4 linked regions of the Homo sapiens genome follow. The protein of the gene in region 4 interacts with the protein of the main gene of each other region in a pairwise test. Each region holds a gene or a part of one and is shown on either strand. Other genes may lie near its edges. The genes, in order: ACAT1, ATL1, CFAP298 and PEX7.

Region 1 (7,034 bases), on a different chromosome or scaffold from region 4:
AATACAAAAATTAGCTGGGTGTGGTGGTGGGCACTTCTAATCCCAGCTACTCGGGAGGCCAAGGCAGGAGGATTGCTTGAACCTGGGAGGCAGAGGTTGCTGTGAGCTGAGATTGTGCCACTGCACTCCAGCCTGGGGGGCAGAGCAAGACTCCTCAAAAGAAAAAAAAAAAAAGTAGAGGCGGAGATTGCAGTGAGCTGAGATCGTGCCACTGCACTCCAGCCTGGGTGACAGCAAGGCTCTGTCTCAAAAGTTCACAACCAGACATTAATAAGAATACCAGAAATCTGGCTGGGCACGGTGGCTCACCCCTGTAATCCCAGCACTCTGGGAGGCCAAAGCGGGCTGATCACGAGGTCAGGAAATCGAGACCATCCTGGCTAACAGTGAAACCCCATCTCTACTAAAAATACAAAAATTAGCCGGGTTTGGTGGCACACGCCTGTAGTCCCAGCTACTCGGGAGGCTGAGGCAAGAGAATGGCGTGAACCTGGGAGGCAGAGCTTGCAGTGAGCCAAGATCGCACCACTGCACTTCAGCCTGGGTGACAAAGCAAGACTCTGTCTTTAAAAAAAAAATACCAGAAATCTTTCATGTAAAACCATCTTCTGAAATTCTTAAATTTTCTTTTAGACAGGTCTCGCTGTTGCCCAGGCTGGAGTGCAGTGGCACGATCTCAGCTCACTGCAATCTCTGCCTTTTGGGCTCAAGTGATCCTCCCACCTCAGCCTCCCAAGTAGCTGGGACTACAGGCATGCACCATCACACCCAGCTAATTTTTGTATAATATTTTTAGTAGAGATGGGGTTTCACTATATCACCCAGGCCGGTCTCAAACTCCCAGACTCAAGCGATCCGCCCACCTCAGCCTCCCAAAGTGCTCGGATTACAGGTGTGAGCCACCATGACTGGCCTGAAATTCTTAACTTCTAACCCTTCATTTCATTCATGCTGCTAAAAATTTAATGTGCTCTAGAAGATTAGAAGTAATCTCAGTTCATGAAAATAATCATACTTCCTTGACTGAGATCCTCATCATCTCTTCCTGGACAGCTGAGATAATTTTCCACTTGATCTTCTGACATGCAGCCTTTCCACCAAAGCATCATCAACACTCATCTGACTCATTTTGGCTAGAATGTAAGTCTGATCATTTCGCACCTTAGATAACTCAGCATAATATATAAAGCCTTTACAGTATCCCTTCTCTCCCCTTTTTCAGTCTCACAGCCTAACCTATACCTCAGGTCACATGGAACTAGTTAAAGCTCTCCAGAGACACCATGCACATTTCACACACATACCTCTGCACTTTCCCCATCCACCAACATGTAAAACACCTACATTTCTCTTAAAACTAATCAGAACACTACTTCATGTCTGCCTTGACCATTTATTTCTATCCTTTCTTGAAACAGTTTCTCCTCCTTTGTGTTCCCCAATTACTATGCAATGCTTTTAATATTATTATATGTTTACATGTCAAGTCTTCCCACTAGACTATGCTCCTTTGAGGCCAGACACCCTGTCATATTTTTACATCCTTGGCAACTGGCATATATAAGTTTAATAAATATTAATCAACTTGTTACTACTTTACAAGTCAACAAAAAAAAATCACTTGCATTATAAGGGCTAGTTAAAAACAGTTTAATATAAAACATTAATGTAAACATAAAGCCAATAATATCTTCTTACAGTCTTTAATCAGGCATACAGACAAGCAAGCTCTATACCAAAGAAACATAAATATTTTGCCTATTCCGAAATAGAGAAATTCTTAATCAGTTCTCATCTAAGTTTTATTCACTTGTACTTTTTACTGGGGGTGATGGCAATAATAAGTGACAGAAAATAAGGTATCAATTCTTCATTATAAAGTAAAACTGACTGTTTTCTAAGGTCATAAATATTCAAAACAAAGCACTTCCAAGAATGCCTATAAGTCACTGTATATATCCACAAATGAATAAAATAATATTAAATGAAAGTATTTCAATATAGTACAAATGGCATTTGCTAGAGAACCACAATACTTCAATTAAGACAAAACTTTCCATGACAAACAGTTCTGAAACTAAATCTGGTGACCGTTTTTCACCTACCAGTTTGACAAGGGTTTGGTACCACCCAGTGGTGGTGCAGATCCAGACAAGTCACACAATTTTTGGAAAGTCTAACTGGTACAACTTTTATGGAAAGCATTTGCAAATACCAAAATGTTCAAATCCTGACTCAGCATTTCTTTTAGGCATTTTTCCAACAGAGACCTGCACATGTACAGATTTTTTTAAATGTTTTGTTCACCACTCTATTTCCAATGACTGTCACATGGCAGATGCTCAGCCCTGTAACTCTGTGGCTGTCTCAGACACACTGAAAAAAATCTTCATCTGAAAAATGAAGGGCTCAGATCTGAGAGAATCTTGATTCTTCTGTGTGTCCAGGTCTCACCTCCTGACATGACAGCATATTTTTGCTAAGGAGCCTGTCTCTTGCTTGATCTCAAGTAAAGACAAGATATAGATCAGCAAGGCTAATTAGAAAGCCTGTAGAACTTAACTTAATGACTACAAATTAGTCATCAAGCCTGGGCTCAAGCAATGATTTGATTCCCAGGGTTAAGCACCGTGTTCTCCTTTATAATGAAAACCTGTCTTATTCTGGCAAATACAGTATTTATGAATTTTTAGTCACCCAGCCTCAGAGAAAGACCCAAATGCCTTGACTAAAAACAATTTTTTTTTTTTGAGAGTCTTGCTCTATCTCCCAGGTTGGAGTGCAGTGGTACAATCTCAGCTCACTGCAATCTCTGCCTCCCAGATGCAAGTGACTCTTGTGCCTCAGCTTCCCGAGTAGCTGGAATTACAGGCACCTGCCACCACGCCCAGCTAATTTTTGTATTTTTAGTAGAGACGGGGTTTCACCATGTGATCTGCCCCCAGCCTCAGCCTCCCAAAGTGCTGGGATTATAGGAGTGAGCCACTGTGCCTGGGCCTAAAAACAACTTTGTAACACAAGACACTTAGGCTTTTTTTTTTTTCAAAGAGCAGAGTCTCGCTTGCTATGTTGCCTACGCTGGTCTCAAACTCCTGGGATCCTCCTGCCTCGACCTTCCAAAGTGCTTACAGACATGATACCCAGCCTACGCTATCATTTTGACCATACTTCAAATGGACTTAGCAAATCCAGACACTCTTGAGCATGTGAGAAAACATACTAACTTATGAGAAAGAATCTCATTTCTAAAATATGAATATGCCTAGATTTTTGTGTCTTTTAGCCCTAGGTATTACTCTGATTAATAAATGGGAAGGACGGTGTTTCTTACCTGATGTCCACACATAAGACTTTGAGAGGCCATCATGATGGCTTTCATTCCTGAAGCACAAACTTTGTTTATGGTGGTACATGGAGTAGAAATAGGTAAGCCTAAAACCAATATAAGTCACTTTTGAAAAACCGATACTCAAACACAACTGCAGAACTTAATAGAGCATGTTACTATAAACTACAACATTTCTTCTGCCAATATAACTACAAATTATATCATGCATTTAATATTTCATTTAAGCTTAAATAACCTTCATTTTGCCATTTTATACTTTTTTTTTTTTTTTTTTTTTTTTGAGACGGAGTCTCACTCTGTCCCCCAAGCTGGCGTGCAGTGGCGCGATCTGGGCTCACTGCAAGCTCCACCTCCTGGGTTCACGCCATTCTCCTGCCTCAGCCTCCGGAGTAGCTGGGACTACAGGTGCTGGCCACCACGCCCAACTAATTTTTTGTATTTTTAGTAGAGACAGGGTTTCGCTGTGTTAGCCAGGATGGTCTCAATCTCCTGACCTCGTGATCCACCCGCCTCGGCCTCCCAAAGTGCTAGGATTACAGGCGTGAGCTACCATGCCCAGCCTTTTTTTTTTTTTTTTTTTTTTCTTTCAGACAGAATCTCACTCTGTCGCCCAGGTTGGAGTGCAATGGTGCAATCTTGGCTCACTGCAACCTCCGCCTCCTGGGTTCAAGCGATGCTCCTGCCTCAGCCTCCCAAGTAGCTGGGATTAGTGCACCACCACACCTGGCTAATTTTTGTATTTTTAGTAGAGACGGGGTTTCACCATGTTGGCCAGGATGGTCTCCATCTCTTGACCTCGTGATCCGCCTGCCTCGGCCTCCCAAAGTGCTGGGATTACAGGCATGAGCCACCGCACCCGGCCCCTTTTACACATTTTAAGTATAAAAGCAAAAAAGTCTTCCAGGTACCTGCACCCAATACTGCCTGCCTTGTAGGAGCTTGTCCTTCACCTCCTTGTAGAACATTACCCATGTATGCTTCTTTCACTTCTTCTTTTGGAATCCCTTTATTAAAAAAAAAAAAAGTCAAAAAGGCATTTAATTCAATTTAATAATCAGTGATTACCTAATAAGGTAGGTGACATTACACAATAGGAATGGTTTCTTTTTTTTGTCAGTTTTGAGTTTCAATCTAAACTGTATAGTACAAAGACTTCTTTACAAGGGAAAGCAGAAATGTAGGCATTAAGTTATTTCTAAGTGTTACATACATAGTTAATGCAAAATAAATATCTTTTCCATGGAATCTTTTTGCTCCCTTAACACAAAAAGCCAAGTAACTACTGACCTGCCTTTTCAATGGCTCCCTGAATTGCAATGGAACCAAGCTTAGTGGCTGGCAGCAAGGAAAGGCTGCCTAAAAAAGATCCAATGGGTGTTCTTGTAGCACTTACTATGACCACTTCCTGGCAAGACACAAGATGGTAAAAATTATAGGTATTTTACCCAAATCGTATTTCATTAAATAAACATAAATATATTATCAAAAAAACACTTCTATGAATGAGTCATCAAAAATTAATCTCAATAGTTGAACAGCTGTCAAGATAATCAGTTCAATGCTAGTGCTTTATGATTTAAGACCTTATAGAAACCAACTCTAAAACAGATGTAGATCCTTCCCAGTTCTCTACAGGAGGTTTGAGGACAGAAGCTTAAGTTTCCTTTCTATTCCTCAGTCAAAATTCAAGAAATGATCACTGTACCTTGTTTTTTTGTTTGTTTTTGTATTTTTGTTTTTGAGACAGGGTCTTGCTCAGCTGCCCAGGCTGGAATGCAGTGGCACAATCATAGCTCATTGCAGCTCAAACTCCTCAGCTCAAGCAATCCTTCTGCCTCAGCCTACCAAAGTGCTAGGATTAAGGGTATGAGCCACCACACTCAGCCACTTTACTCTTGTTAACTGCATAATAAACAACTCTAAGAGGGTCCCTTACTGAAAGGAACTCTGGCTAGGAATCAAGACCTGTATCCTAGGTGGGGCAATACCACTTAACTAGGACAGAGCCAGGGCCAGAATTTCTTTTTTTATATGTAATTTGAGATGGAGTCTCACTGTGTCACCCAGGCTGGAGTGCAGTGGTATGATCTTGGCTGACTGCAACCTCTGCCTCCCGGGTTCAAGTGATTCTCCTGCCTCAGCCTCCTGAGTAGTTGGGATTACAGGCATCTGCAACCACACCCGGCTAATTTTTGTATTTTTAATAGAGATGGGGTTTTGCCATGTTGGCCAGGCTGGTCTTGAACTCCTAACCTCAGGTGATCCACGCACTTTGGCCTCCCAAAGTGCTGGGATCACAGGCATGAACCACTGTGCCCAGCCAGAGCCATAATTTCTTTTTTCTTTTTTTTTTTTTTTTTTTTTTTTTTTTGAGATGGAGTTTTGCTCTGTTGCCCAGGCTAGAGTGCAGGCACGTGATCTCAACTCACTGCAAGCTCCGCCTCCCGGATTCACGCCATTCTCCTGCCTCAGCCTCCCGAGTAGCTGGGACTACAGGTGCCTGCCACCATGCCCACCTAATTTTTTGTATTTTTAGTGGAGATGGGGTTTCACCGTGTTAGCCAGGATGGTCTCGATCTCCTGACCTCGTGATCCACCTGCCTCGGCCTCCCAAAGTGCTGGGATTACAGGTGTGAGCCACCGCACCCGGCCCAGAGCCATAATTTCTTAAACAGTAAGACAATAATATGAACTTTAAGCAAAAGAAGATAAAAGCTCTCTTGAATACTATAAAACAGCACTGTGACAGTTCTCTCCTTACACTTGTCTTCCACAATCTCCTATTAAGTTTAGAGATAAATAACAGAATGGTTGCTTAGATTTTGATAGAAGATCTTAACTAAGTCACTTTAGTGACCCTTACAAAACAGAGACTCTTCAGAAGGTCCTAGGAGATGCTGTAATGGCCCTCCTTGTCTAATTCCCAACTGGTCCACTCCCTCTCTTCTAGGATCTTCTATACAGTCTCTGCTTGTACCACACACAATACAATGCGAGTCCCTGTGAGTAAAAGAAGAACACTGCCCAGTTCTAGAGGGAATGTTGTTTTGTAGCAGACTATAAGGAAGCAACAAACATTGGCAGAGACTAACTGACATGTTTTTCTATTATAGTCATCTACTTTAACTGAATATTTGAATAGTTAGCTATTCCTAACTGTTACATAATCCTGCTTTGACTTTCACATGTATCCAAATCATAAGTATATGCATTTTTATTGACATTTCCTTTAAATTCTGGAAATTTTAAAGCACAATTTAAATTACTTACCTTCAAAGTGGGTTTTGATACATAACTCCGTTCCACATATCTTATTTCCTGTAATATAAATATTTATAATGTTATAATGTAAAAAATATTAAACTATATCATTTTATATTTCTCAGTGATAAGGTTATAGTGGTTTCTTCCTGCATCCTTATGCTTTTATTTCCAAGTTTTTTGTGGTCAGAATATATCACTTTTAACAATTAGAAAAAAATGACTGCTTTATAATAAACTTTTCTAATTAACTATTCATTGGAAATGTACGTTTTAACTCTTAAGTTTACTATCTTAAAATTTCCAAGTCTTGGCCAGGCGTGGTGGCTCATGCCTGTAATCCTAGCATTTTGGGAGGCCAAGGTGGACGGATCACCTGAGGTCAGGAGTTCAAGACCAGCCTGGACAACGTGGTGAGACCCAG
Region 2 (7,034 bases), on a different chromosome or scaffold from region 4:
TGTCAACATTAAATAAAATGCATCTTGAGTCTAAAAAAAGAGATAAACCTTCATCATTCTATATCAGCACCTCTCATTTTCAAATTCAGTAAGCATTTGTTTTTAATCTTAGGAACCAGAGTAAACTTTAATAATAGTTCACATATTAAAAGAATAAACCTATGAAGAATACATTCTTTGTGTACCAAATGAAAAAATATACAATGCAGTGAAACTCACATATACAAAGTGATTTTTTGTGCATTTTTTATCAAGAGGTTTATATTCTATTAAACCATGTAAAAGCAATATCTGGTTTTTGATAAAGCAACTAAGGAACTCTAAAATGTGCTTAAAAATAAGATTGTGATATATATAAGATGATACAGATTAAATCCAGCCTGCTGAGTTATGATGCTGTGTTTTAACAAATGGCTAATGTGAAATAATTTAAAATTTTTTCTGTAGAAATTAAATGAGCATATCCAAACGTGGAATATCACATGATTTAATTATAACCCAGTAGTAGAATTTAGTAAATTCAAGCAGAACACGTGTACTGTTATCATAAATAGACAAATACTTTATAACAGCATTTTTGAAGAAAAATCAGGAAATTGTACATGTTAACAAAATAGTATAACCATGCATACATACATCTGCTTATTAAACACTGAAGTAAAAGAACTAATCCAGTTTGCAGTCTTCAGAGGTGTTTAGTATTTTACTCCGTTCTGATGGAAGCACTTTGAATGTTTGCATGGAGACATAAAACTGAATATTTAATTGACAATTGGTCATGCACCTGTATTTCTTAAAATTTGCATTACATTTTTTTCTTTTCTGATTGTTCAGTAGATTCCGACTTTGGTGTAGGGAAAGCTTGATGATACAGATGTCTGTGGGTTGCTGCTGCACTGTAAAGCTTGTACAAAGCCTAGAATAAAAGCATCAAAATTATAAAACATTTTATTAAACACACAGATGTAAAATTTTTTCCTTTTTAGTTTATCGTACTGTATAAAATTTAGCATGTTGAATTTGAAATCTTTTTTAATCGATATATAAATTATTATCTTAAAATTCAAAAGTATTTTCAACTCCTCAATGTGTGCATTAACACTTTTGTGTGTTGACCTGTGTGGTGAATGTTTTATTCTCAAACTGTGTTTCCTTTTACCTTGCATACCTCTTGGAGCAGTGAGCTTCTACTTTGCCCCAGGGGTGTGCTGAAAATTCAAATTGTGAATATTAGCAGTTTTAGATGAATTGTAAGACCTCATAACTTCTGATTGGCAGTAACTATTATGCATAGCTAGGCTACTTGCTTTCTGGGCTTCCAGTGTTTTCCTGAGTGGGGCCAATTTTATTCTCCATCATTTACTGATACAGTCATGCAGCTAAGCACATATGGTGTCCTTCCCCCAGCACAGTAGGATCCTTCACTTTACACGCTCTTGCCTTGTTTCCGTGACTTAGCTAATATCTTACAAACCTTATTCAAAAACATTACCTCAGCAAGCTTTCCTCATTTAAAACTACCTCTTATTGTTCTCTGTGGGTTTTTAATGATGTTTGAATCATAGGAATCTCTGTGTATTGTATATTGCTTTATATAAGTGTTCATAGATATCTTTGTTTCCTGGCCCCGTTAGCTAGTGTCTAAGATTTCATCCCCTCCTCTGACTTTCACATACTTGACAGTCAGTTACAAATGACTTGTCTGATTTAGTTCTGGAGTTCGTAAAGAGTCTTTGAATATTTTTAAAAGCTGCATAAAAGCTTGAGATCCTTTAAATAGTAATCTGTTCCCAGGAAATTCCATTAATTTTTATCATTTGTGAGTCTATACCTACTTTCTTTGGATCTGGTTTTTTTTTGTTTTTGTTTTTGTTTTTTACTTTTTGAGTTGGAATCTCACTCTCTCGCTCAGGCTGGAATGCAGTGGTGGCACGATCTTGGCTCACTGCAACCTCCTCCCAGGTTCAAGCTATTCTCTTGCCTCAGCCTCCCCAGTGGCTGGGACTACAGGTGCCTGCCACCACACCTGGCTAATTTTTTGTATTTTTAGTAGAGATGGGGCCTCACCATGTTAGCCAGGCTGGTCTCGAACTCCTGACCTAACGTGATCCGCCCACCTCAGTCTCCCAAAGTGCTGGGATTACAGGCGTGAGCCACCGCGCCTGGCCTTGATTTTCTTATGGCATTACGTCTGTATGGTACCATCTTCAGATCTGTGAATGTATATTGGTGCAACATAGTATTGTTTTCCATTATATTCTGATTCTAAGGCATTCAATTTAATTCTAATTCTCTTATATTTTTTCTTAAGCTTTGATTTACAAAGCTGAAATTTGCTTTTGCTTTTTTAATGAACTTGCTTACTGAATTTTGCATAAAATAACTTCTTATTGACTTGTAAATAGTAAATGGTATTTGATTCGAGGACATAATCCAATTATATGCCACAGTAGAAACTGAGGAAAGAATTATCTCTATAGTTGTTCAAGATCAGCTTTGCTTCCTGAAGATAATGACCTAAATGATTCCAGAGTGGTAATTTTTCTTAGTGTAACAGATGATTCCTTCGTGGATGCCTAGAGTCTTTTCTGAGATATGTAGTGTTGCACATGTGCGGTAGGAGAAATGAACACTAATTTACAGGTCAGGCCTGAGGTCTGCCAAGAAAGAATACATACTGGCCTGGGCCCTGCTTAAAGTGGTATGTATTACTGTCAGTCAAAAGCCAAAGTTGAAAACAACTTCTAAAGGTTGTAGCTACATTTAAATAAATACCCTCCAGTAGTTACATTTCCTCAGGTTTCATAACTGCTTGCTTTACTCTGCAGTACAGCAGAGTCCACCATTTCAGAGCTTAAGAATTTTGAAGTTTTCTACACATTCATGAAACAAATACTGATGATATTCAATTCTTAGTTTTTGTGTGTGTGTAGATCAAATCATACATGATGTCTAGAAAAAGTTAAATATTTTAAGACCATGTTAAAAATTCACAATTACAAATTTAAATGTTAGAAGTCACCAAAGATTGTTCTAATCTACATAAAGACATCTTTTAATGGCTTAGTCAGTTTATAAAATAATATCATAATGTTTACACATACATAGCTCTGAATTTTAAAAAATTTAACTTACCTCATTTGTACTTCCCTGTGGCAAAGGCAGATTAAAAAGAAAAAAGAAAAGTATATATCCTGCTTTATTAACAGCATTATAATCAACTTTGCTTACAATATTAATTTGTGAGCATTTCAGAACAGATACTCCTGCAGATTTTTCAGTTTAGATTACATATTTTATCAGAATCTTTGAAGAACTCAATTCTGTATTCCTCATAGGTTTTAGCATAACATAAGTCTAGGAGGGTTTTGACATTGACCTCAACCCCTCTTAAATCTTTTGTGGTTGAGGGACTATTTCAGAAAGTGGCTCAGAGGATCCAGTTTTTACTTCATTCATTTCCCATTGTGCTACCACTAGTTTATCTCAGCTAGATCCTTCAAAGGCACGTTACAATTATGTTATAAAGTATATATAAGTAGGGTTTTTTTTTTTTTTTTTGGGAGATGGAGCTTCACTCTTGTTGCCCAGGCTGGAGTGCTGTGGTGCCATCTCGGCTCAGTGCAACCTCCGCCTTCTGGGTTCAAGCGATTCTCCTGCCTCAGCCTCCCGAGTAGCTGGGATTACAGGCATGCGCCACTATGACTGGCTATTTTTGTATTTTTAGTAGAGACGGGGTTTCTCCATGTTGGCCAGGCTGGTCTCAAACTCCCGACCTCAGATGATCCGCCCACTTTGGCCTCGGAAAGTGCTGAGATTACAGGCGTGAGCCACCGCACCTGGCCATAAGTATGTTCTTAATGCTGGAAGAATTGTAGCTATTACCTGCTGCCTACAGGTACAGAGACAATCTGAAGTAATCTGATACTGCTTTTGGAAGTTTTTAACTAAAAAAGAGAATGATATGACAACTTATGATAGTGGTTCAGATAGCTCCTAACAAAGCTAATGCTAATCAAATCATAGGTTGTAAATATGAGATAATGTTAACACAAGTCATAATTAGCTAAATAAAAGCTGTTGTCTCTTACAACTTTTAATAGATATAACATTTTTAGAATAATAAAAAGTAGGCTGGGTGGCTCACGCCTATAATCCCAACGCTTTGGAAGGCTGAGGCGCGCAGATTGCTTGAGGTCAGGAGTTTGAGACCAGCCTGGCCAACATGGTGAAACCCCGTTTCTACAAAAAATACAAAAACTTAGCTGGGGATGGTGGTATGCACCTGTAGTCCCATCTACTCGAGAGGCTGAGGCACAAGAATTGCTTGAGCCTGGGAGGCGGAGGTTGCAGTGAGCTGAGATCACGCCACTGCACTCCAGCCTAGATGACAGAGCAAGACTGCCCCCCTACCCAAAAAAAGAAAAAAAAGTATATATACTACTAAACTGATGTATATTTTTTTAAATGCTGAAATGTTAACTGGAAAATAGTTGTGTAGGACTTCACATTTTACACAGTATTATATAGTTAGTTGCTTGTATCTGGGCAGGTCATAACATTCTTGATGACTGGGGCCCAATTCCTGTTGATCTGTATTTCCAACATCTAATGCAGTGGCTGGCACATGGATGACATTCAAATGTGTGCTGAATTTAGTTGTGAATTAAAGGTGTTCTTACCTGGTCCCACAGAGCTGCAGCCACCTGGTCTATTACAGCTCCCAGCTCTCGGTATTCTCCAGAGTACCGGATATATGCCCAAGTGCACAGGGTGATAAGGGTCAGTCCCATTATCATATTGCATAGGCTAGCTATGATGTCCAAACCAATGAATCCAGTCACACCAGCAATCACATATGTGATAAAGATGACTACAAACAGTGTGGCTGGGGTACGAGCTGCATGGAAGATATTTTTGCTATCATTGTGCTTGATATATTGGATGTAAAGTTCATCTATTTCACTCTCCAACTGCTGCAGGTAACGCCGGCTAAATTCTTCCCCACCCATCTTCTTCACCCCTCGGAATAGCTTCACAGATTCTTCCTTAAGTTGCAGGTGTTTGGTCTGCAAGTCATTTGGGGCCAGAAATGGTTTGTCACCACCACAAATCTGTATCAGATAGAGAAGTATTTGTTTATGCAATGCAGAGTAAAATTGGCAACTGTATCAAAATTTTTCACTTAGCTAGTTGAGTTTGTTAGAATACGTTAATAATCAGGAGCCTGCATATATGTTTTGTCAGCCCACATCTTTCCACCCCCTATCCACGAGGCATGACTATAAATGGGACTGGTATTTTATAGGTGGCTTAAAATCATTTTAAATTTTTCTCTTTTTGACATGGAAAATAATATTTATCACTTAATCCAAGTCCTTCAAGATGAAAAGACGTGTGACACAACATGAAGTGCAAACTGAGTTCATTCACAGAATGAATCCAAATCTAAGAAAACTACGTATATCCAAATTCTAGGAAATCTAACTACACTGAAGTCATGTTAACCAATGAGGTTTAATAAACAATGATCAATGCTATAAAGCTCTCAAAGTAAACTGTGAAATACATTCTTTAGCAGTTTTACTGATTTTTATTTGAATGGAGCCAATTGAGTATTTTCTTCCAGAAACTAAGTTAGGAGTATATTAAATGTTCTTGAATAACATTTTCAATTTTTTGAAAAGTTACAAGGGTAATCTCAGTTAACCATACCATTCACTTTGGTTACAGGCATGCCTCAGAGATAATACATGTTTGGTTCCAGACCACTGCAATAAGCAAGTCACATGATTTTTTTTATTTCCTAATTCATATAAAAGTTATGTTTACATTATGTAGCAGTCTAGTAAAGTGTGCAGTAGCATATCTAAAAACCATGTACATAATTTAAGAACACTTTATTGCAAAAAATGCTAAGGATCATCTGAGCCTTCAGCACATCAATCTTTTTGCTGGTGGAGGCTCTTGCCTCGATGTCGATGGCTGCTGACTGATTAGGGTGGTGTTGCTGAAGGTTGAGGTGGCTGTGGCAATTTCTTAAAATATGACAACAGTAAAGTTTGCCATATTGATAGACTTCCTTTCATGAAAGATTTCTCTGTAGCCTGGGATGCCATTTGACAGCATTTTACTCATAGTAGAACTTCTTTAAAAATTGGAGTCAATCCTCTCTAACCCTGCCAATGCTTTATCAACTAACTTTATTTCATATTTTAAAGCCCTGGAAAGGAAAAGAGTAGGGGGAAGGGGATGAAGAGAGGTTGATTAATGGGTACAAATAAAGCAGTTAGAAGAAATAAGACAGTGTTCAATAGCTCAGTAGGGTGACTGTAATTAGCAATAATCTACTGTACATTTCAAAATGGCCAGAAGAGAATAATTCGAATGTTCCTAGCATAAAGAAATATTAAGGTGATAAATACCACACTTTCCCTGATTTGATCTTTACACATTATATGGATGTATCAATTTATCATATGTACTCCAAAAATATGTACATCTATTATGTACCAATAAAAAATATTCTAAACCCTTTGTTGTCATTTCAACACTGTTCACAGCATCTTCGCTAGGAGTAGATTCCATCTCCAGAAACCACTGTCTTTGCTTATCCATAGGAAGCAACTCCTTATCCGTTAAGAGAATACAAAATTGAGTCACATCTTCAGGCTCCACTTTTAAGTTCTCTTGCTGTTTGCACCACACATGCACTTCCTTCCTCCACTGAAGTCTTGGACCCCTCTCAAAGTCATCCAGAAGGGTTGGTATCAACTTTTTCCACATTCTTGTTGATATTTTTGCCTCCTATAAACCACAGATTCTCTTCATGGCATCCAGAATGGTGAATTTCTCCTGGAAGGTTTTCAATGTACTTTGCCCAGATCCATCAAAAGAATCACTATCTATGGCAGCTATAGCCTTACAAAATGTATTTCTTATTAACTTTTGAAAGTCAAAATTACTCCTTGATCCTGGGCTGTAGAATGGATATTGTGTTAGCAGGCATGAAAACATTAATTTCCTTAAATACA
Region 3 (7,357 bases), on a different chromosome or scaffold from region 4:
TTATTAAAGAGCAAGACAAAAGCTTCCTTTATCTACCTAATTCATCCTAGATTAGAGTTTTACCAAAGGAGCTACAGAGTACAGTATTTTGTAAGTCTGTAGAGAAATGACGAGGTCAATTTTTAAACGTAAAGAACTGCTTTCTCACACCTGTAATCCCAGCACTTTGGGAGGCCGAGACCGGCAGATCATCTGAGGTCACGAGTTCGAGACCAGCCTGGCCAACATGGCAAAACCCCGTCTCTACTAAAAATACAAAAATTAGTCAGGTGTGGTGGCACATGCCTGTAGTCCCAGCTACTCAAGAGGCGGAGGCAGGAGAATCGCTTGAACCTGGAAGACAGAGGTGGCAGTGAGCTGAGATTGTGCCACTGCACTCCAGCCTGGGCTAGAGCAAGAATCCGTCTCAAAAAAAAAAAAAGGAACTGTTTTCATACTTATGCCTGTATCAAGCATGCACATAGAAGAGAAATCCTCACTTACCTTGCCCATTCCTTCGTCCAATATCATCCTTTTTAAACACTGCACCTCCGCTGGGTACGCATTTTTCACCCCATTCATCCTTCAATTTCAATTCTTCAATCTGATCATCGGTCAGTCCTTGCATATTAGGAGGGAGAAATATGCCATGTTCGGCTAATTCTTCCATTTCTTAAAAATAAGTGAAAGACAGTATCACAATCATAACACCTCATACCCCATTGGAATGTAAGCTCCAAAGAGTCAGGGGTCTTGCCCATCTGGCTCACTATTTTATGGAACAAACATTTATATGCCACTTGCTATGTGCCAGACCTGGCCTGGGCCTTTGACACGGGGGCATGGTACTGGTCTTATTCATCCTTGTCTTTTTTTTCTTTGAGACAGGGTCTCCCTCTGTCACCCAGGCAGGAGTGCAGTGGCGCGATCTCAGCTCACTGCAGCGATCTCAGCTCACTGCAGCATTGCCTCCCGGGTTCAAGCGATTCTCACGCCTCAGCCTCCCGAGTAGCTGGGACAACAGGCATGTGTCACCACGTTTTGTATTTTTAGTAGAGACTGGGTTTCACCATGTTGCCCAGGCTAGTCTAGAACTCCTAGGCTCAAGTGATCCGCCCGCCTCAGCCTCTCAAAGTGTCAGGATTACCCGTGTGAGCCACCACGCCCGGCCCCATCCTTGTCTTCTGAAGGCTGAGCACTGGTGCAGAATAAATACATGAATTTTCAGTTCACTAATGTGACTCTTAGCATTCAGCACATTTCCAATTTATAACGTTATAGGAAAAGAAGATGAATTCCTTTTCTCCTCAAATGCTTTAACTTAAAAATAACATTTAATATTGAGTTTGTGTTGGAACCTCAATTAAGAAACTACACATAAGTTTCATGAAAAGAACCATGACCCTCAGGAATTTCTCCACGGTGCAAAACTCACATATTCATATAATGTAATCAATACATTTCATAATAAATCACATATTCATGCAATTTAATAAATCACATAAATGAATATACTATTTATTGCAAATAGTTACGTTTGTATATTCTATATATACACGATAGTTATATAAACAGTAATATCCTAGACCACATCAGGAAGTATCATCCCGTCAAGTTCAAAAACTATGCTGTCTAATGCGGCAGCTACTCGCTCCACTTGGCGATTTAAATTTATTTAAATTAAAATGACCCAGACGCGATGGATCACACTTGTAATCCTAGCACTTTGGGAGGCGGAGGCAGGCGGATCACCTGAGGTCAGGCGTTCGAGACCAGCCTGGCCAACATGATGAAACCCCGTGTCCACTAAAGATACAAATATTAGCTGGGCGTGGTGGTGGGCGCCTGTAATCTCAGATACTTGGGAGGCTGAGGCAGGAGAATAGCTTGAACCCGGGAGGCGAAGGTTGCAGTGAGCAGAGATCGCGCCACTGCACTCCAGCCTGGGCAACAGTAAGACCCTGTCTCTCACACACACACATACCATATATATATATATATATATAATTTATTTATATTTATATATACATATATATAATTTATTTATATTCATATATACTATATATATGGTATTTATTTATATTTATATATATTTAATTAATTAAAATGCAAATGTAAAATTCGGTTGCCTGGCCGCACTAGCCACATTCCAAATGCTCTACGGCCACAAGTGGCCGGCAGCTGCCCAATGGACAGCACAGATGGGGGCCCTTCCACCGCCGGAAAGTTCTGCGGCAAAGCGGGTGCCCTGGAACCTGCGCGGGGTAGGGAGACGGCGCCGCAACGCAACAGGCCGTTTCCAGGGCGGGGAAAGATCACCAAGGCTTCCTCAACTGTAAGGGGCCGTCCCAAAGCCAGGTGGCTCGCTGCTTTACATTGGGCGACTAAAAATAGTAAATTCAGCTTTTAAAAGCCCACCTAGTTCTCATCTCACCCCTCACACGTGATTAATTGCACTAAGTCTGCTGTTCAGCCCGGCCTTTCGGCTCCCTCCTCCCTCCCCAGCCCATTTCCACTTATTCGCAGCACCCCAAATCCTGGCTCCGAGAGGCACCTGGGCCCACCTCCCAGCCCGGGGTGTCAGACAGGCCGGATCTTCTCCGGTTCCTTATTCATCTCCGGTTAACCCTAGTGTCCCGTTTCAACCCCGGCTGCTGCAAATCTCTTCAATAATCTTCACAAACCTGACCCCTCGGCCCACCCTGCCCCTCTTTCTCCATCCCACGCCGGTCTCTCGATCTGTCCGGGATGGGCCCACCCGCGAGCCGCACCTGAGCAGAGGCGCTGCACCTTGAGCCGCCCATTATAGACCCGGGCCACCTGCACCGTGAGCTCCTCCAGCTCGGTACTCCCAGGCGCCTGCAGCAGGAACTGGCTCTCGTCGCCCCGCTTCACGTGCAGCAGAACCATGGCGGTCCCGCCGAGGTACTGAGGCGTTGAGAAGGCCCCGGCTGCGTGGCCCGCGGGTCCTGCCGGCCGAGGGTCGCCGGATCGCCAGCAGCTGCGACGCACTAACAGCCGCTCACAGTCCGGAATCCCACGCTCCCTAGCCCGCGGTGAGCGGGGGAAACGGCACTCGCTCCCGGAAGTGGATGTTGCCAAGAGCAACAGTGAAGCAGAGTTAAAGAGCCGCCAGCTCAAGCTCAGAACCCGAGTGGGGGAGGCTGGGGTGCACCGAGGCCCAGCAATCCAAGCCCGTACGGAGCTGCGGCCGGGGAAACCACCCACACAGTCTGAGAGGACAGCTGATTCTGAGCGGACCGACGGAAGGAGATTCGCAGAGCCCCTTCCCGGAAGTGACTGTTGTCGCGGCAACTGCCAAAACACAGACCAAGTCGCTGAAGGGGAGGGCGGACCTCCCAATCGACTGGTCTGGGGCCCGAGATTTCCACTCAGGGAGATACGTGGGCTGAGATGGGAGTTACTAGATGGGGAACGGGAAATACGGCGGGAACCACAATCGCGCAGTTCCGCAGCTGCCGCCCCACAACCGCTCCACATTCCAGCGTCCCTTCCGCCGCTTTCAGTCTCCACTTCCGGCAACGTTTCCACGCTGTTTCCGGCCTGGGAAAGTTCGGCGGCAGCGACCCAGAACTGAGTCTTGCTGTTCGCTGCTGTTTGCGCGGGTCAGCTTTTCAGGACGGAGGGGCCAGGGCGAGTGTCCGCACTTCTTCGTTCAGGTTGATTTGGATGGCGTTGCTGGGGTAGCTCCAGCGGCCCCTGCCAGAGCGACCCTCCCAGAAATATCCAGCCATCCTCCAGCGGACTCTTGCTGAAGGCAGTCGGCGTCAGTCGCTGTTTATTCCGGGCCCCACAGATCCAGAGTCACTGCTCTCATGGAGCTTATATTTTAGTGTGACAAAAAGAAAACAAAAATAAATGGACAGGCCAGGAGCGGTGGCTCACGCGTGTAATCCCAACACTTAGGGAGGCCGAGGAGGGCGGATCACCTGAGGTCAGGAGTTCGAAAGCAGCCTGGCCAACATGGTGAAACCCCTTCTCTACTAAAAATACAAAAATTAGCCGAACGTAGTGGCGCGTGCCAGTAATTCCAGCTACTAGGGAGCCTGAGGTGGGAGAATTGCTTGAACCCGGGAGGCGGAGGTTGCAGTGAGCCTAGATCGCGCCACTACCCTCCAGCCTTGGCGACAGAGTGAGACTGTGTCTCAAAAATAATAAATAAACAAACGGACAACACAAATTCAAATACAGATCTAAAGAAAACTAAACAGGTTGATGGACTTCTTATGTTTGATGGTCAGGGAATGTACACCTTCTGCGATATTGGGAGTAATATTATCGTCTCCCGCCCTGAATATTTAGAAAAATATCACAGTGGGGTGTACACCCCTGCGATATTGAGAGTAATGTCATCCTCTCCACCCAGGAAATTACTAACAAGGTCACGGAGGGGTGTACTCCCCCTGTGATATTGGGAGTAATGTTTTCCTCCCCAAACCTGGATGTTAGCAACAAGATAACAGAGGGGGTGTACACACCCTGCGATATTGGAAGTAATATGATCCTCTCCCCCCCGGATACTGGGAAAAATATCACAGCGCGGGTATACATTTCCTTCGCTGTTGGGAGTAATATCATTCTTTTCCTCTCTGGATATCAGGAACAATATCACAGGGGTGGTGTACATTTCCTTCGATATGGGGAGTAATATCATCCTCTCCCCGTTGGGATACTAGGAACAATATCCCAGGGGGGTGTCCACCCTCTGCGATATTGGGAGTAATATCATCCTCTGTTTCCCCGGATATTAGACACAATATCACAAAAAAGTGTACACCCCCTGCGATATTGGGAGTAATATCATACTCTCCTTCCCTGGATATTAGAAAACAATATCATCAGGGGTGAGCACCCCCTGCGATAATGGAAGTAATATTTTCTCTTTTTTTCTTTTCTTTTTTTTTTTTTTTTTTTTTTAACAGAGTTTCACTCTTGCTGCCCAGGCTGGAGTGTAATGGCATGATCTCGGCTCACTGCAGCCTCTGCCTCCCGTATTCAAGCGATTCTCCTGTTTCAGCCTTCCAAGTAGCTGGGATTACAGGCATGCGCTACCATGCCCGGCAATTTTTTTTTTTTTTTTTTTTTTTTGTATTTTTAGTAGAGACAGTGTTTCTCCATATTGGTCAGGCTGGTCTTGAACTCCCGACCTCAGGTGATCCGCCTGATTCAGCCTCCCAAAGTGCTGAGATTACAGGCGTGAGCGATCGCGCCCAGCCACCACTTAGCATTTTCATTTTACATTTGTTGAAGTTACAGATTTATACACACATTGATTGCTGCTTTATTATACACTTGCATATACATAAAATGGGAAATAGAAAAGAATAAAATGGGCACAATATCCCTAAAGTTTCACATTCCGAAACATTTTTTAAATATTTGCTTTTTAGAAATTTGTTTCAATTAAGAAACTGCGGTATACACACACAATGAAGTATTATTCAGCCTAAAAAGGAATAAAATCCTCTCCGCTGCAGAAAAAATGGATGAGATTGCAGGTCTGTATGTTAAGTGAAATAAGCCAGGCACAGAATGACAAATATTACATGTCCTCACTTATACGTAGGAACAAAAAAGAAAATCTTGGCCAGGTGGCTCAGGCCTGTAATCCCAGCACTTTGGGAGGCCGAGTTGCACGGATTACTTGAGGCCAGGAGTTTGAGAGCTGCCTGGCTAACATGGTGAAACCCCGTCTCTACTAAAAACACAAACAATTAGCCAGGCGTGGTGATGCGTGCCTGTAGTCTCAGCTACTCGGAAGGCTGAGGCCCAAGAAGCGCTTGAACTCGGGAGGTGGAGGTTGCAGTGAGCCTGGACTGTGCCTGTATGCTCCAATCTGGGCAATGGAAAGAGACTCCATCACACACCTACAAACAAAAGGAATCTCAGGAAGGTGGAGAGTATAAAGGGGGTTAGCAGACGCTAGGAAGAAAAGGGGTGGATGGGGAATGAGGAGAAGTGGATAATTGGGTCCCAAAATACAGAAAGATGGAGTAAGTGAGTTCTAGTGTTTGATAGTACAGTATGAAAATTTTAGTTCACAAGAATTTCTTGCATATTTCCAGATGCTTTGGTAAGAAGCTTCCTAACTTTCTCATTATGCTGGTTTTTAAGCTCTTGTCTTCTGCTCTTGAAATCATGCTGGTTTTTTGTTTTTTGTTTTGAGATGGAGTTTTGCTCTTCTTGCCCAGACTGGAGTGTAACAGTGCAATCTTGGCTCACCACAACCTCTGCCTCCTGGGTTCAAGTGATTCTCCTGCCTCCACCTCCTGAGTAGCTGGGATTACAGGCATGCGCCAGCATGCCCAGCTAATGTTGTATTTTTAGTAGAGACGGGGGTTTCTCCCTGTCGGTCAGGCTGGTCTTGATCTCCTGACTTCAGGTGATCCGCCCGCCTTGGCCTCCCAAAGTGCTGGGATTACAGGCGTGAGCGACCACGCCCGGCCCATGCTGTATCCTTATCTGTTGTTTGTTGTGGTTTGTTTGTTTTTGAGCCCAGAAATAACTTCTCACCTATGTGTTCAAATGATTTTTAACATGAGTGCTAAGAAAGCTCATTGGTGGAAAAGCAGCCTTTTCAAGAAATGGTGTTGGAGAAACTTGATTTCCACATGCAGAAGAATGAAGGTGGACCCTATGTCACACCAGGTGCAAAAATTAACACAAACTGGATCAAAGACCTAACCCCAAGTGCTAAAAGTATAATATGCCTCAAAGAAAACATTGGCCACACTTTCATGACATCAGATTGGGCAATGCTTTCTGGGATATGACACCAAAAGCATAGGCAACGAAAGAAAATTAGATTCCTTGGATTACATCTAAATGACAGACACTTTTGTGCATCAAAAAACACTGTGAACTGAGTGAAAAGATAACCCATGGATTCGGAAAAATATTTGCAAATCATATATCTGAAAAGAGGCTGATATCCATCATGTATAAAGAACAGCTAGAACTAAGCAACAAGAAACCCAAAGCATCCCATTGACAATGGTCAGAAGACTCGAGTAGACGTGTCCCTAAAGAAGATACAGCAATGGCCAATAAGCATCTAAGATGATGTTCAAAATCACTCATCATAGGGAAGCGCAAATCAAACCAATAATGTGATACCACACATTAGGATGGATATGATAAACAAGCATTGGTGAGACTAGAGGGAAGTAGGAATGCTCGAATATGATTGCAGGGAATGTAAAACCGTGAAGCAACAGTGAAAATAGTATGGCGTGTACTGGAAAAATTAGAAACAGAATTATCAGATGTTCCTGCAGTTGCATTTGTGGGTACCTACCAAAAAGAATTAGAAGCCAGGAGTGGAAGAGATATTTGTACACCCATATTCATAGCAGCA
Region 4 (4,877 bases):
TTGTTAGTTAGTAAAGTGCTTTTTTCTTACCTTATTATTATTTTCTTTATTGTTAGCTTGCTTAAATTTGTAGAACCAGATAGGGCTTAATTAACAAATAGAGGAATACTATTTTCATCAATTTGAATTAATCTATTCATAATTCTATATCATTGCAGTTTTAGATCTATCTTAATCCAATTAAGTATAGATTTATGAACATTTGCTGAATCAGTGGCCTTGACATTTGGTAGTTATTATAAGTCCTGAATAAATAAGAAGCTGGATTGGAGAGTGCCGAATAAGGTTTCAGAAACATAATTTATAGATACCTTGCACTAGAAACCTAAGTCTTATTTCTCTGATTCTCTTCTCTCCAGTAGCGGATGCTTAACATGTGGGAAGGCCCAGCACTTGAAAAAAATAGGCATAGATGAGACAGGGGTAATTTAACATAATGATCTTTGTGTCCTATGGTATAAAAACTGAAAACTGCAAGATTAGGCAAATAATGGTTTTCAGTTTGCCTTTTCTATGAGGCACTGTTTTAGTGGATACATTCAACAGGTTTAGGTTCTGGCTGTAGCTCTGCTACTCTATTGTGAACATGAGGACAGAGTTAACCTCTGAAATTGTAATCTATGAAATTAATTTGTTGAGCCAATATTCATTGAGTTATGTTCTAATAAGACATGGTCCATGCCCTCAAAGAGCTGAAGACAACTCTTTGTCTTCAGTTGGGAAAATAAGTACAATCAAGTATTATGGGTACAATGAATGACTTCATAGAGGAGATGATACCTAAACTGATTTTTTAAAAAAGAGACATCTCTGGCAGAGCAAGGCAAAGGGGACAGAGGAGCAGACAGAAAGGGAGGGAGAAGAGGAGTTATTAAAGGGAAGCGATCAGTAAAGGAACAAGAGCGAAGAGGCATAAGCAGCATGCTTGGATTTGAGGTGTGAGCCCGGTGCAATGAGAAATGAAATGGGAACAACCAGATCTTGAAGAGTGAGGTTTTTAAATTTAAAAGTTTGACTAAAAAGTCTATAATGCTCTCTGTAGCTTGGATTCTGATCTCAGAATATTGGTAGTGAATGATTGGCTATCACTATTCAAAATTAGTGATAGCCAAGAAATTACATTAGTCAAAACGAGGTTTCTCTTGTGTAATTTTCAGCCTTTGTAATAAGCATGAAAGGCTGGGAAATGGAGTGCAAATACTTTTGGTCAAAAGCACTCTCTTGCTACTTCATCTTTCATTTTACTGCCTACCTTGTTTCTTTTCTTCTTTTTTTTAAATTGTGGAAAATTTTGAAAACATACAAAGTAACAGAATCAGATAACGAACTTCATTACTTAGCTTGAACAACTATCAACATTCTTATTTTATTTATTCCTGTACTCTCACACATCGTTTAGTTATCGCTAACATTATTTTTACTATTTTTAGGTATAATTCACATATATTGAAATTTACAAATCTTAGATATACATTTTTGACAAATAGATACGTCTGTGAAATTCACATCATCCCAGTTATTGGAAACTGGGAAAGCCCCCAGTTTCCTTTTTACCCCTTTCCAATCTCCCCTATCCCCACCCTTCCCTCCAGGTGAGAAGAGTAACATTGTTCTGACTTTTTGTTTGTTTGTTTGTTTACCTTAGATGAGTTTTGCCTGTCTTAGAATTCTATAAGGAACTCTTCTGTATGTCCTCACTTGTTTCTGGCCTCTTACCTGTGAGCTTCACCCGTGGTACTGAGCCTGTTAGCAATTCCTCCCTTTGTTTTGCTGAGCACATGCTGTTGTATGAATTTACTACAATTTGTTACCGATTCTTTTGTTAGTGGGTATTTTGGTTGTTTTCCTTTTTTTTTAGACAGAGTCTCACTCTGTTGCCTAGGCTGGAGTGCAGTGGCATGATCTCGGCTCACTGCAACCTCTGCCTCCCAGGTTGAAGCGATTCTCCCACCTCAGCCTCCCTAGTAGCTGGGATTACAGGTGCACACCACCACACCTGGCTCATTTTATGTATTTTAGGTAGAGGTGGGGTTTCACCATGGTGCCCAGGCTGGTCTCAAACTCCTGACCTGAGGTGATCCATCTGCCTCAGCCTCCTAAAATGCTGGGATTACAGGTATGAACCACTTTGCCCAGCCTTGTTTTCGATTTTTTGCTATCGTGAATGAAGTTGCTATGAACATTCGTGTCTACATTGTTTTGCAAACATATGTTTTCATTTTTCTTGGACAAATATCTGGGAGTGGAATTACTGGGTCAAAAGATAGGTATGTGTTTAACTTGGTAAGAAACGGCCAAATTGTTTTCCAAAATGGTGGTACCATATACCTTCCCTACCAGCAATGTATGTGATCACAGCTGTTCCACATCCCTGCTGACATTTGGTGTTGTCAATCTTTAATTTTAGCCATAATGTGAATATATGGTGGTATCTCATTGTCATTTTTATTTGCATTTCCCTAATCCCTAATGATGTTGAGCACTTTTTTATGTGCTTACTTTTGCCCATCATTTTTCATTAGATTGCCTTTTATTATTGAGTTGTATTGGTTCTTTATGTATTCTTGATACAAGTTGTCAGGTGTATATTTTATGAATATTTTATATAACTGTGTCTTGCCTGTTCATTTTCTTAACAGTGTCTTTTGATGAGCAAAAGTTTTATTTTTGATTGAGTGTAACTTACCAAATTTTTGATTATTACTTTTTGTATCCCTAAGAAATCTTTACTTACCTCTGTATTGAGAATATATTTTCCTTTTTTTTTTTCTGAAAGTGTTATACAGTTTGCTTTTATATTTAGGTCTGTGGTGCATCTCAAATTCATTTTTATGTGCAAAGTTGGGGTCAGGATTCACTTTTTTCCCTATGGATATTCAGTTGTTCTGCCACCATTTATTGAAAAGACTATTTTTTCCTTTTGCTCTTTAATTGTTTTGGTACCTTTGTTGAAAGCCATTTGTCCAAGTGTGGGGCCTATTTCTGAACTCTGTTCTCTTCCTTTGATCTACTTGTCTTTATCCTAATCCTGCACAGTCTTGATTACAGTAGTTTCGTGCTGAGTCTGGAAGTCAGCTAGTGTTAAGTAGTGCAGCTTTGTTTCATTTCAAGATTCTTTTGGCTAAGTCCTGGCATTTCCACATAAATTTTAAAAATTGCCTCATCCATTTCTATTAAAAAACGAGTATATAGAAACACAGTGGTTTTCATATATTAATTTTATACCCGGAGACATTGCTATATTCACTAAGTTTTTAATGCATAGTTCCTGAACACCCTGGACTTTCTTCCCTTCATGTTTTCCTATGGCTCTGTAGATGTGAATGTCCTTGTCTTTTATGTCTGCCTCCTACAGAGGTCCAGTGGGAATGCCATGGCATTGTGAAGTTGTCTGACACTGTCCCAGCTGGAATCATATAGTCCCCCTAAGAGTCTCTGTTAGTGCACCTTCCACACTCAGTCTTGAATGAGCCATTTTTTGAAGGCAAGAGCTTTACTTTATCTTCCTCTCCAGTCCCACAATATTGAGCACAGCATCTTGTTCACAGTCTGGAACGTATCTTTTCGACATTTATATCAGATAGTAGGGAATTATGTAGCTGTTGGGTGAAGTGAAGGTGGGGGACATTCTTATAGGAAACCTCAGTCAATTGAAATATACCAATTGGAATATACTCAATCAATGGGAATCAGTTGGAATACCCTGAGGTATATCCTAAAAAGGGAATATGGACCTTTTATCAAAAACGTAGCCCTATGTTTTCCCTATTCAAAAATATGTTTACTAGTGGATGATTTACGACACTCTAAATGACTTGAGTTTTTGCTGTCAATTTTGAATTTTTGTATGTCTAAATACGTTTCTTCTTACTTCATTTTTGTTTTCTAGGTGGCTGACTGTTCTTGGGATGAAACAATAAAGATCTATGACCCTGCTTGTCTTACTATTCCTGCTTGAGATACACTACTTTGGTCAGAAACAGAGGATGTTGGCTGAAGAACTGCCTAACAGCAAATAAATTAACTATGGAAAACATAGACATTATGCTTTTATATGCTATTCAGATTTCAAATCTTTCCAATTTACCCTGGAATCAGTTTTGAGGGAGCTGATAAAGACTTTAGCTGACTCGTTAAGCCTGATACATAAGCCATATTTAAAATTCTAAGAAATAATTAATGTTATGATATATCTTGTAGTATCTATTAAAATGTCTCTGGGTCATAAAATGGATTAAAATATGGGAGATCAGTAGGTTATACTTATATAGATAGTGATATATTTCATTTTTAATTTGTCATTTTTGATGTAAAATATAATCACTGCTGTGATAAATAAACTATCTATTGATCATTTATCATTTTATAACTTCCCCCAAAAGACTGCTCTTTCTAATACATTGTATATGTGAATATAGTACTATATATAATATAGATATATCTGTGGTTCAGTAACAGGACACTAGAATATATTTAATTTATTCTTTTATTTAGTAGCTGTTTATTGAGCATCTACTCAGTGCTTGACACATAGACTCAATGAGATTCTGTCAAGGACTGGTGCCATGTTTTTAAGAACATGGAATGCTGTGAGCTAAGAGCTTACTTTTTTTTTTTTCTTAGAATTTATTCACACATTTTTAGATATTGTACCCATGACTCTATAATTTTGTCTTCCCACTTCTCTAATATCAAAATTTTTTTAAACTGTCAATTAAACAAAAAGTTTTAGGTCCTACTAAGGCTTCTAGCTTTTGCCCTTGAAACCAGGCCTAAGTACAGCTATACGTGCTCCTTGCCACCTCCCTAAGTTTTCTTGAAAAAGCTCTAGGTGCAGATGAACTGAAAAAAACAAAAAAAGTTGGTTAAAGAGGAAA

The links.
Region 1: the proteins of PEX7 (region 4) and ACAT1 interact in a two-hybrid assay, tested with the Homo sapiens proteins (one study listed by BioGRID).
Region 2: the proteins of PEX7 (region 4) and ATL1 interact in binary tests that used the Homo sapiens proteins (3 or more experiments, as listed by UniProt).
Region 3: the proteins of PEX7 (region 4) and CFAP298 interact in binary tests that used the Homo sapiens proteins (3 or more experiments, as listed by UniProt).

Annotation. Positions count from the first base shown.
Region 1 is NC_000011.10:108,131,540-108,138,573, reverse strand, and holds part of ACAT1 (acetyl-CoA acetyltransferase, mitochondrial isoform b precursor), read right to left. Parts: intron 6,668-7,034; coding exon 6,620-6,667; intron 4,755-6,619; coding exon 4,637-4,754; intron 4,354-4,636; coding exon 4,258-4,353; intron 3,433-4,257; coding exon 3,332-3,432; intron 1-3,331. UniProt on the Homo sapiens protein: This is one of the enzymes that catalyzes the last step of the mitochondrial beta-oxidation pathway, an aerobic process breaking down fatty acids into acetyl-CoA.
Region 2 is NC_000014.9:50,626,111-50,633,144, reverse strand, and holds the end of ATL1 (atlastin-1), read right to left. Parts: intron 5,115-7,034; coding exon 4,683-5,114; intron 3,151-4,682; coding exon 3,136-3,150; intron 917-3,135; coding exon 806-916; 3' UTR 100-805; downstream 1-99.
Region 3 is NC_000021.9:32,609,355-32,616,711, forward strand, and holds the start of CFAP298 (cilia- and flagella-associated protein 298), read right to left. Parts: upstream 3,024-7,357; 5' UTR 2,890-3,023; coding exon 2,751-2,889; intron 652-2,750; coding exon 484-651; intron 1-483. Other genes in the region: CFAP298-TCP10L (uncharacterized protein LOC110091775), read right to left, coding at 484-651, 2,751-2,889. UniProt on the Homo sapiens protein: Plays a role in motile cilium function, possibly by acting on outer dynein arm assembly. Seems to be important for initiation rather than maintenance of cilium motility.
Region 4 is NC_000006.12:136,909,569-136,914,445, forward strand, and holds the end of PEX7 (peroxisomal biogenesis factor 7), read left to right. Parts: intron 1-3,889; coding exon 3,890-3,958; 3' UTR 3,959-4,366; downstream 4,367-4,877. UniProt on the Homo sapiens protein: Receptor required for the peroxisomal import of proteins containing a C-terminal PTS2-type peroxisomal targeting signal. Specifically binds to cargo proteins containing a PTS2 peroxisomal targeting signal in the cytosol.